Linked DNA regions of Homo sapiens: region 1 is linked to region 2. The links come from fine-mapping of genetic effects on gene expression. A gene starts in region 2. The other region holds a variant in brackets. All regions are shown on one strand. Distances are from middle to middle.

Region 1 (5,380 bases), 26 kb before region 2:
TAAGAGGAAGTGTCAGCAACGTCAAATGTTGCAGAGACATAGAGTAAGGTAAGAGTGGAAAAAACATCCATGGAACCCTGTGATGCAATCGGAATGCAGAAAGACTTTGTAACTCCTGCCTGGTCTCCTCCTCTGCCCACTCATGGCAAAGGAATACAAAGTAATGTTCCCTCCTTCCGCCTAGAAAAGCACAACTTCTGCCCCCAAGCCCTGGGCTCTCCTGAGAGGACAGGACCAGCCTCTGAAGTTGAAGGTCCTGGTTCTGCCCCCAAGCCCTGGGCTCTCCTGAGAGGACAGGACCAGCCTCTGAAGTTGAAGGTCCTGGTTTACCAGATAGGGAAGGGGCCCTTTCCAAGACCCTTTCCAGAAGGTGTGGCTGAGATGGGAACCGTGGACTCTGTGCAGATGTAGGAGCTGGCTCCAGTCAAGTGCTAGGAGGTTGTGGGTCCTGGGAAGGAAGAGGCTCTGGAGCCTCTGTGGAGACTCTGGGACTGTCCTTGGGGGAGACGTGAGCAGGAAGAAGCAGGGCCTTCACAGTCCCCAGCTTAGGGGCCTCACCACCCAGACTGAAGACCAGGACCAAACCCTTTCCTGCACAGTTACAATGTGTCATTTAATTTTACTAAAGGGAATATTTTTTAAATGAGGATGCTACTTTGTGTATTAATTTTTACCTCTATTCATAAAAGAAACGTTTCTTATCTATTTAAGATGATTCATATCAGACCAGTGTCTGCCCAACTCGACTGACCCTGTGAAAACTGGGCACTTCACACTCCAATGATGATGGATGAGTCCCCAGCAGCATAGTTTAAGGGAGTGAGTGGGCAGTGTGGCCTCCTGTGCACGTGACTTCCTCCTTCAGTGTGCCCACATGTGGGTTCCACGGTCTTGTGACATTGTGGCTTTAGAAATTTCTGTTTCCATTTTCTATCATTCAGAGTAAATGAAATTTGCAGGAAATTCAGAACCTTCCACCTGTACAGTGGATACTGTGAGACTCTGCCCAGATGCCCTTTTCAAGCCAATGCATCTCTCCATGCTCCCACTCCCATAGATGGGAACAGAGGTGCTGGAACTCAGATCTACTCCCCTTTCTGGGAACTGGAGCTGCCTGCCCAGGCAATGCCCCCTTCCCAGGGATGGCTGAGCCAATGACTGGCTAATGTTGGATTGCAGAGGCCTAGCGCCCTCCCCTCAATTCCTAATTCCTTGTAGGAATAACTGAGGCCTCCTCTGTGACCACGTGGGCAGCTTCTCCCTCTGCCTGGTCCTGTCTTGTTCTCTCCTTTCCAATTGTGTCTCCTGGAAGCCCTCCCCACAAGTCTGCTGCATACAACTCTCCTTCTCAGAGAGCCTGAGCCCTGGATTCCCAGGAATCCAGCCTAAAATAGTCTGGCATTTGGTTTCAATTTTCTCTTTCACTAAGACTCAGTCACAGGTGCTAATAAATAATAAAATGTCACCACCTTGAATTCTATCACTCTCTCTTTTCTTGCCCCATCTCTGACAAGTAGGTGGTCCCTCAAGAACCTGAAAAGCAGACATTAGGAGGAAAGGAGGAGTGGGGGCAAGAGGCCCACACCTCACCTGGCCGGCTCCCATCCATGCGCCCTTGACTGAGGTAACACCTACCCTGGGAATCCTTCCCCTGCCTCTCGTGAGCCAGGCCGGGTGCTCTTGGGACAGCTCCCACTGCTCCTGTGTGCTCCCCCAGCTTGGCACATGACTCCCTGAATTATAGTCAGTTCCGTACCTGAATCTCCCTCTAGAATGCCAGTGCCACGAGGACAGAGGACGGTTCCACTTTGTTCACTATTTTCTCCCCAGGGTCTGGCAAAGTTCCTGGGACTTGGGAGAGGTGTCCTTCAGGAGCTTGGCAGAAGCCAAACGGCACACTTAAGTAGGGCAACTGAGGTGAGTTTAATGAAGGATTCTATACAAAAATTTGGACAAGGTATAGGGAGGCCACAATACACAGTGCAGTGCCTGGTGCCAGTGAGAGCAGGGCACTATTCCCACTGCAAGGCCAGACAGGGCAAGGGGAGGGAGCTGCCTGACAAGAGCTGCCCTTACGTCAAGGGACACATCAGCCCACTAGACCCCATCAGGAGGGAGCCAGGGCCTGACTCCCCTGACCTTGCTCTCCAATCTTCTGCCTAAAATTCCCCATCAGCCAAACACAACTGAAAACTGAAAGACAGGGGAGCCTGCTGTTAATAAGGTGAGCATCCCCCAGAATAAAGCTGGGTAGAGAGTGGAGAATGGATATGGAAGGGCAAAAGGAAGATTTATAAGACAGTGGGCACTAAATATCTATGAGATGAATAAAGGAACCACATTTTACAACAAACGGTCATTGAAACGCTACTCAATGGAAAGAGATCATTTCGGTCACTGTCTGGTGCAGACAAATCAAAGCCCACATGCATCAAAAAGGCCATGTCCGTGTAACTCCGACACGGGGCAGACAGCAAGGCTGAAGCCTATGGGGTATGTGGAGCCGGAACTGAGAGATCCTGATGTAAATCTAGCACTTGGGAAAAGGGGGACTAGAAGAAATTCACCCACAGGCAGAGGAAAACACAAACACTTATCTATTTTTGCCTAGGCTTTAAGTGGTATGGGAAAAATCTCTGAGACTACAAATCCTGTGCTTCATGCACAGGTTTATAATACCCTCAAAATGGAAGACCCCAAA[AC/A]CCAGGCGCGGAAAATTCATATCAGGCCATTGATGCCCTCAATGTTCCCGGCTGAAACAAACTCAAAACTCCTCTGGAAAGGAGTGCTCCCACTTCAAGCCATGAAAAGCTACTGCAGAGAAAATAATCCCCAGTCAAGACACACTCACATTGAAACTGCAAGGCACACAAGGAAATGGATCACCTTGAGTGATAGCTGGCAGAGCTAATAAACCTCTGTATACCTCTAAGAAGCTCCACGCACTAGTATAACCCTTAAAGATTTGATGAAATCATTACTTTATTAAAATTGTTTTTATAAAAAATCAAAATCCAAAAAAAGCAACAAATTTTATACCAGAGCCAATTCGGTATATACAAGGGTGTCTTACTCTTTTGGAATTTGTCTTATTGTCCTAACTCAGCACATTGTCCTGGTCTATGAAAAGTCCTAGAAACCCTTCTACCCTCTGTAATGTAGGAGCTTTAACTCAATAGGGTTTTTTAAATTCTTTTTTCTTGTCTTTTTTTCTTTTTTAATTTTTTCCATTTTTTCAAGTCAAACTGAAGAAATATTTTTCTTTTCTTTCTAGGAATGCATATTCACCCCCCAAGGCCACTTGTCTCCTGATTGGAGAGTATTAGACAATTCTCAGGATTTCTTTATTTTCCTTCTTTATTCCATAGGATTGGGAAACCCAGTAGGATTGGGTTTAGGCATATCTCTAAAGCACCATGTTTCAACGTTTTGATGTAAGATTGTGCCCTATTTCTTGTTCAGTTGCTGCCAGCAGATGTTATAGTTTTAAAACTAGTTTTTGGTCATTGAGATATTAGAGGAGGGAAGAGTCTGCTATCCTGCTTTACTCATCTTCATCTACACTACACTGTCATCTTCACTGCAAAGTCCTGTATTAATGTTTTTAGATTCTATAACATTTTAACAGGTGTCAAAAAATCTTAAGCACCACTTCAGCTTGGGAATCTCTAAATGTAATGGTGTTTGTGGGCTGGACTGATGTCTGCGTCTTGTTGTTGTTATTGTCTGTAGTAATGGAGAGCCGGGAGATCCTGGACACTTCCTGTTCATGGGCACTTGATGCATTAGCTGCCCCAGCAGCTGATTACATTTAAACAAGGATGTGTGGGTGAACCCAGGGAGACCAATCTCAGTGGAATGGTGGGGGCAGAAGCCAGGCTGCAGGGTGTAGAGTAGGGAATGAGCAGTGATGAAGTAGAAACAGAGTTTGGACAACTAGTGAAACTGCCTGGAAGAGGGGGAGAAGAGACAGTAAATGGTCTGACCAATGTTTGAGGTCAAAGTGGGTTTGTAATCTTTATTTAAGGGACAGATCTGAGCATTTAAAAATTCTGAATAATCTAATAGAGAGGAAAAAGTTGGGACTCAAAGAAAATGTGGGAAAAAATGATGAAGGTTAAACGGAATGAGATCCAGAGTGCAGGGGGAGAGATTAGCCTTTGGTGTTAGAGGAGCAACTCTGTCCATGGAGAGAGGAAAAATGTAGACATACCACAGTTGCATTTGAAGTTGGGGCCTGAGGAGTTGAGGAGTTCTGAGAAAAGCAGAAGATGAGATCATTTCCTGAGAGTAAATGGGAGTCATTAGAACGGGGGTGAAGAGACTGGAAGCTTTAGGTAGCTTGAAATAGTTGATGGAAAAATTGGATAAAGTGACAATTTGTCACACTCAGAACAGCTATCAGGGAATCTAGAAGAATCTCTGGAAGCTAGTTGAAGATCTTAAATTACCAATGTATCTTGTCCACATAGCTAAGCGGTTTTACTTATTTTTATTTTTTTGAAACAGGGTCTCACTCTGTCACACAGGCTGGAGTGTAGTAGTAGTAGCACAATCACAGCTCAATGCAATCTCTGCCTCCCGGGCTCAAGCAATCCTCCCACCCCAGCCTCCCGGGCCTGGGACTACAGACACACACCACCACTCCCAGCTATATTTTGTACATTTGTAGAGACAGGGTCTCGCCATGTTGCCCAAGCTGGTCTTGAACTCCTGGGCTCAAGTAATCTGCCCACCTCGGCCTCCCAAAGTGCTGGGATTACAAGCTTGAGCCCGGCTGCTAAGTGGTTTTAAACAGCTGTTCTCGGAAACACACACTCAAAGAAAAAATGTAGAGGATAATTTATCTAAGGCTGGGGCTTCAAGAGAGGTCAGGGTGTTGACAAGAGAATGACTAAGTGGCAGACTACTGGATCTCAGCTAGATAAAGAGGGATGTGATCGTGGGAGGGGCTGATAGTCAGAGGCTGGAAGGCTTGATGAACAACACATATTACACAAAGAATAAATGGAGTGAGAGAAACCAAAGGAGTAAAAGTTGTCATCAGAAAAGTGAGAAATTTTATTGTGAGAATTCAGTGGTAAATCAATGTTAACAAACCTCAGCTGGGCACTAGTGGAGTGAAACCGAAGGCCAGGGAGTTGAGTTAATGAGCTGAGACTTGGGCACCAGATGGGGGTCCACATGGACAACTAAGCCACCAGGATGATGTGGGAAACTGGGGTGAATAGAAGCCCCTTATCCATGTGCACAAGTCTTGAATAAAATAGGGGCAACCAGGCAGTCAGTGGATGATAGCAGTGAGGTGGAGCAGAGAGCAATGTAGTTGGAGAAGTGGAGCCCACAGCAGTCTCCTTTATATCTAGAAGGGAATTAATAG
Region 2 (5,380 bases):
AACTGCATGCTGCCAAATGTTGCCACAAGAGGGGTGCCACTGCTTCTAAATCTGCAAGAGAATCAGAGGTTAACATAATATCATCAACGTAATGGAACAAGTGGACTCCCTTTGGACATTTTCAGGCTGTTAAATCCATGGCAACAAGACCATGACATATGGTGGAGCTATGCACATAGCCCTGCAGCAACACTGTGAAAGTCCATTGTCATCAAGGCAAACTGTTCCTGGCTCTCTAGAGCAAGGTCAACTGAGAAGAATGCATTGGCCAAGTCCACCACATAGTGGTACTGTCCTAATTCCATTGTCGAGTGGTTCATCAAATCCATGATAGATGGCACAGCTTCCAAGCCATGTAAAATATCCACCTCCAGAATGTATTCAGGTATGGGAGAGACATACACAGTGTATAAGCAAGGAGCCAAGTGGCCAATGCCAAGGTACAGAGATACAGGTTTCACTTTCACTGACTGGCCTCCGTAACCTTTAATATATGCAGATTTGCCCAAAAACTTAACTGGGTTCCCATAAACAAGGCTACAATCTATGCCAGTATCTACCAGCACCAGCACCCACTGTACATTGGTGGGGGACCAGTGGATTGCCAATTCCACATGTGGCCTCTGGTCATCTGGTGTCCCCCCAAGCCAGACACCTTTGGCCAGTTCCCTAGTTGAACAGAAAAGGCTCTACATTTCCACCTGGCTGCAGCAAGTAGTCTCTGAGCTGGGTAGGACCAGGTCACACAGCAATGCCTTTCTCCCCTTTGGGCATTTTCCGGAATTGCTGCCCTGCATACAACTGTCTCCGCAAAGTTAGGAGTATTTCATTGGGCTGCTTATCAATTTTCTCTCAGTCAACCCCAGCCAAAATCAAATCTATCCACATCTGTGAGCGTGTCACTCGTTGGGGCCCCCTTTTTTTATGGGGGAGCCCCCTGTGGGTGGGGTAACTTCCCCTTCTTTATGGTGTGGACCCTCCAATCCCCCTGAAGGCCTTCTGCTTCCCTGAGAGCCGCCATGGCAGTGGTTACTTCATGTATGCGGTGCCCTACGTATGGGGTGAGGACAGCAGCTAGGGAGCCAAAGGGGCTCAGGAGCATCAAACCCAACATGAGATCCCTCATGTGGGAGGTGAAACATTTATCATCTGGCCCTCAGGTATTCAGGACAAACATAGCCTGCCGCATACCCATCTCCCGAATGACTTACACCAAATTGGCATATGACTGCCATTTACTCACAGTTTTGGGCATTTCACCAGCATTATTCCACACAGTTCATATGGCTGCCTGTAGCCACTCAGTCAGGGTGTGGTCTCCTTGCGCTGCCACTAACCACCTGCTCACTTGCAGCCGCTGACAGAGAGAGGGGTGAGTCATGGTGGAGGCCAGCTTGTCCATCTCAGAGGTGGAATGGGAGATACCATCTGCTCCCTTGTTCCACAGACGAAGCATCCAGGCAGGCAGGGGTTCCCCTGGACACTGGCAACACTGCTTGCCTAATTCCTGCAACTCAGTTGGGGTACAGGCAATATACGAAATGTGTTGCATTATGGTGGGGAGTCCCTGAGTCCACCCTTGGAGCCCCAGTGGCTGTTCATGATCTACCTTCTGTCAGACCACCGGGTGAGCCCGCAACAGGGGTTCTTCCTCCTTGGTATGAAACTGAGTGGGGATCTCCAGACAAGATGATGGACCCAGGCCTGCATTCATGGTAGCCTCTAATTCCTTTTCCAAGCTCTGAAGCCACACCTCCAGGCATCCTGCCTGCACCTGGAGGTCCCCATTCATGGCAGCCTCTAATTATTTTCCAGATCGGTGTAGCCAGACCTCCAGTCTGCATCCCTCAGGGACTGGGTGTGTACTTTTCTTAGCACAGTTAAAAATGCCCATCCAACTCTGCCAGCAAAGGCTCTCTCCTTCTTGGTGCTCTGCACTTCCAGCTGCTTCAGCGCCTTCTCCATGCTCATGGGGGACCCATCTACTGCCACCCAGGTTTCCACTCAGGCCCACCCTCACAGCACGGCTACCACCGGGTACCACAACCCATGTTGTGGTCACATGGCCAACCTGGAATCAGCAGGGACCGAAGGCTCACTTACCTTAGGATCCTGTTCGTGATGCCAATTGTCAGGTTCTAGCCCAAACTAAAGTCCAAGGGGAGTTGGTGGGTGGGTGGCAGGTAACTGGAAAAACACTCGAGTAGGCGGTTTCGACATGGCTTTATTCTCTCTCTGGGTGCAAGCCATATGTAGTGTCAGCAGGGTAATTTTACCTTTTACAGACAATAGTGGCTTTGAGCCAAGCACGTGCTCATATGAGTGGTCACCTAATGCACCTCACATGGCATGGTTACATAATGTGTGGAGTTGTGTGCCTGCCTCCAAACCCACTGAGTCATGCTGCACCAGAAGGCTGCCTCGGCCTACTCCTGACTAAAGCACAACCATCTCCCTTAGAGTGGGCTAAATCTACTGCTATTTATACTATTAGAAATTTTAACACAGAAGTTTTAAATATTTACATTGTTAATTGATTTTGAAATAATAAGCCCATTACAGGTTAACATAATTAACATACTTTTATTAAAAATATCTGTATTTTTTAAAAGAAAAAAAATTAGCAACAACAGTGATCCTTGGAATCGTCCCACCTCAGCCTCCCAAGTAGCTGAGACCACAGGCGCACATCACCATGCGAGCTAATTTCTATATTTTTTGGTAGAGATGGGATCTTGCCATGCTGGCCAGGGTGGTCTCGAGCTCCTAAGCTCAAGTGATCCTCCTGCCTCGGTCTCCCAAAGTGCTGAGATTACAGGTGTGAGCCACCACTTCTGGCCAGAAGCTGGATTCTCTGTCTTGTTCTCCATCCAATCTGTTAGACTGTCAAATGCCAAATAACCTTTGGAAAATTCTACTCGTAAAATAAGGAGAGAGATAAATAACTTCTGAGTATCATCATTAAAATAGTTTGACCTCATGGACCCACTGGGTCCCATGTGGAGAATAGCTCTAAGCTAAAGAGTAGAATGGCTGGGAGGGGACATAAACATTCAGCCCATAGCTGCTGACCACAATAACACATTTTAAGTCTCTTCCTCTCCTGCTCCTTGTGATTGCAGACAGACTCAATCTGTAGGAGAGCTGTAGAGAGAACAAGCTCAAGCCCCTGATTTTGCCTACAAAGAAAGCTGAGCCCAGCAAAGTTAAGGGACTTACCCAAGGTCACACAGCCACACAGCAGAGCTGGGGCTGAGCTCCAGGTGTCCTGCTACAGAGGCCACTTCTTTCTCCCACTAGGGACTGGCCTGTGATTACTTCAGAAAACAATGGTCAGCTAACTGATTCTGAACGCCCTTTGCTGGTAAAAGCTAATCTCCTGAGGAAAAATGTATGCATTGGCTGGGCGCAGTGGCTCAAGCCTATAATTCCAGCATTTTGGGAGGTGGAGACAGGTGGATCACTTGAGGTCAGGAGTTTAAGACCAGCCTGGCAGTCATGGTGAAACCCCGTCTCTACTAAAACTACAAATATTAAGCTCGGCATGGTGGCAGGCACCTGTAATCCCAGCTACTGGAGAGACTGAGGCAGGAGAATCGCTTGAACCCAGGAGGCGGAGGTTGCAGTGAGCCGAGGTCGCACCACTGCATTCCATCCTGGGCAACAGAGTGAGATTCTGTCTCAAAAAATAATAATAGTAAAATAAAAATAAATAAAAAAATAAGTATGCATCACCTCAGGTGGTCAGTCAGCTTTCCCAAGACCCCAAAGCACACAATGTTCTTTCTGGTATGAGTGACATGGGGTTCACAGCACCACAAAGTCCATGACTTTTCCCTCAGAAGTGAATGCATGGCTAATTATTTTGTATTTTTTGTAGACATGGAGTTTTGCCATGTTGCCCACGCTGCTCTCAAATTCCTGGACTCAAGTAATCCACCCACCTCAGCTTCCCAAGGTGCTGGGATTACAGGCATGAGACACCGCATGACCTGCACCTATAGTCCCAGCTATCAGGAGGCTGAGGTGGGAGGATCACCTGAACCGGGGAAGTTGAACCTGCAGTGAACTGTGATCGCTCCGGTGCACTCCATCCTGGGCAACAGAGTGAGATCCTGCCTCAAAAAAAAAAAAAAAGTGAACACACATGCTGGGGAAGAGGCCTGCAGGCACCCCTGCCAGTTCTGCACCAGAGCACACTGTAGCAGCCCTGCTGTGATGCAGGAAGCAGCTCCAGGTCCTGCAGTCTGAAGCATGGAGCCTGAAGCCTGGAGCCCCCCATCCAATGCTGCGCCATGCTCACCAGTATCCCCCAGCATCAGCACCGAGGCACCAGCTGCAGATAAATTTCTCACCTAAAATGTTGAGAGATGTTGCTAAACTGTCCTTCTAAGGGTATGTATAATAATACGGTCCTGCCGATACTGAATAAGACTATCTGTTTCATTACATCCTCACAATACTGAATATCATTAGCAACTTGAATTTTAAATTGTGCTAATCAATGAAAATGATTGCCTAATTACTAGTGAGTTGAGGTTATTTAACATTAATACTCCTTCTGATGAAATATTTTGCATTTATCACATTTTACATAAATTCTCTCTATATAATTAGCACTAGAATGTCCGACTTGGTTTTCATTGTTCCTCACCTGTTTGGAAACACATTAAGAATGAGGGAGAGAATGGATGGGGACTCACCTAGGGATGCATGGAGCTGGTCGGCAGCCACTCTGAGGCCCTCTTAACACTTCCCCACCACACACTTAATTTCCCCTGGTTTGTCCATAGATACATCCAACAATTTTTATGTAAATAAGAAAGACTCAGCTTTCAATGGAAAATGGTAGGTTGGATTTTATGACTGAAGTGGCAAAAAGAAATAAGGGATTTTATTATGGGGGAGGTCCAAACCCTGGTGAAAAACGAAATTCATTGAAATTGTTTGAAAATTCAAGGATTAAATCAGATTATTTTGGATTCAGTAGGAATTAGATTACTTTAAAGCCCCAGGATACTTTATTCTGTAGAATGCATGGAAAGTATAGAAAAGAGAAACAAAGAGGGAAAGTCATGGCTAATAACCTGGAAGGGGTAAATAGGGAGCCAAAGGCCTGTGGGACGTAACCAACTCAGCATTCCACTGGAGGCTTTATGATCAAATAGCAAGCTATTTATCATGAATGCAGGATGTGGGCAAACTCACGACTGCTCCCACTGCCAGAAGGTTTGCTGAGGGCAATCACTTCCTGGCACCGAGCTCCTTGAGGTTATCTACTGGGACATCTGGAGAATGCAGTCTTGCAAGCCTACTCTGGACCCAGCAGCTGACCCCTTCTTCCATGCCCCTCTTCCTGCTATCTCTTTTGCCTAATAAA

Evidence for each region. PIP is the estimated chance that this variant, and not a neighbour inherited with it, causes the effect.
Region 1: its variant is the best candidate, but not a certain one, in a credible set for the expression of LINC02009 in whole blood (GTEx, PIP 0.74).

Annotation. Positions count from the first base shown.
Region 1 is chr3:46,395,504-46,400,883 of GRCh38, forward strand. The region is part of intron 1 of CCR5AS (CCR5 antisense RNA); the gene reads right to left. Among named protein-coding and RNA genes, the nearest start is that of CCR5AS, 8.9 kb to the right of the region's middle. The variant AC/A (reference allele first, on the strand shown) is at 2,702.
Region 2 is chr3:46,421,442-46,426,821 of GRCh38, forward strand. It overlaps LINC02009 (long intergenic non-protein coding RNA 2009), which reads right to left and starts at 2,226. Exons shown (of 5, transcript NR_151704.1): 1 at 2,104-2,226; 2 at 1,244-1,357; 3 at 1-51.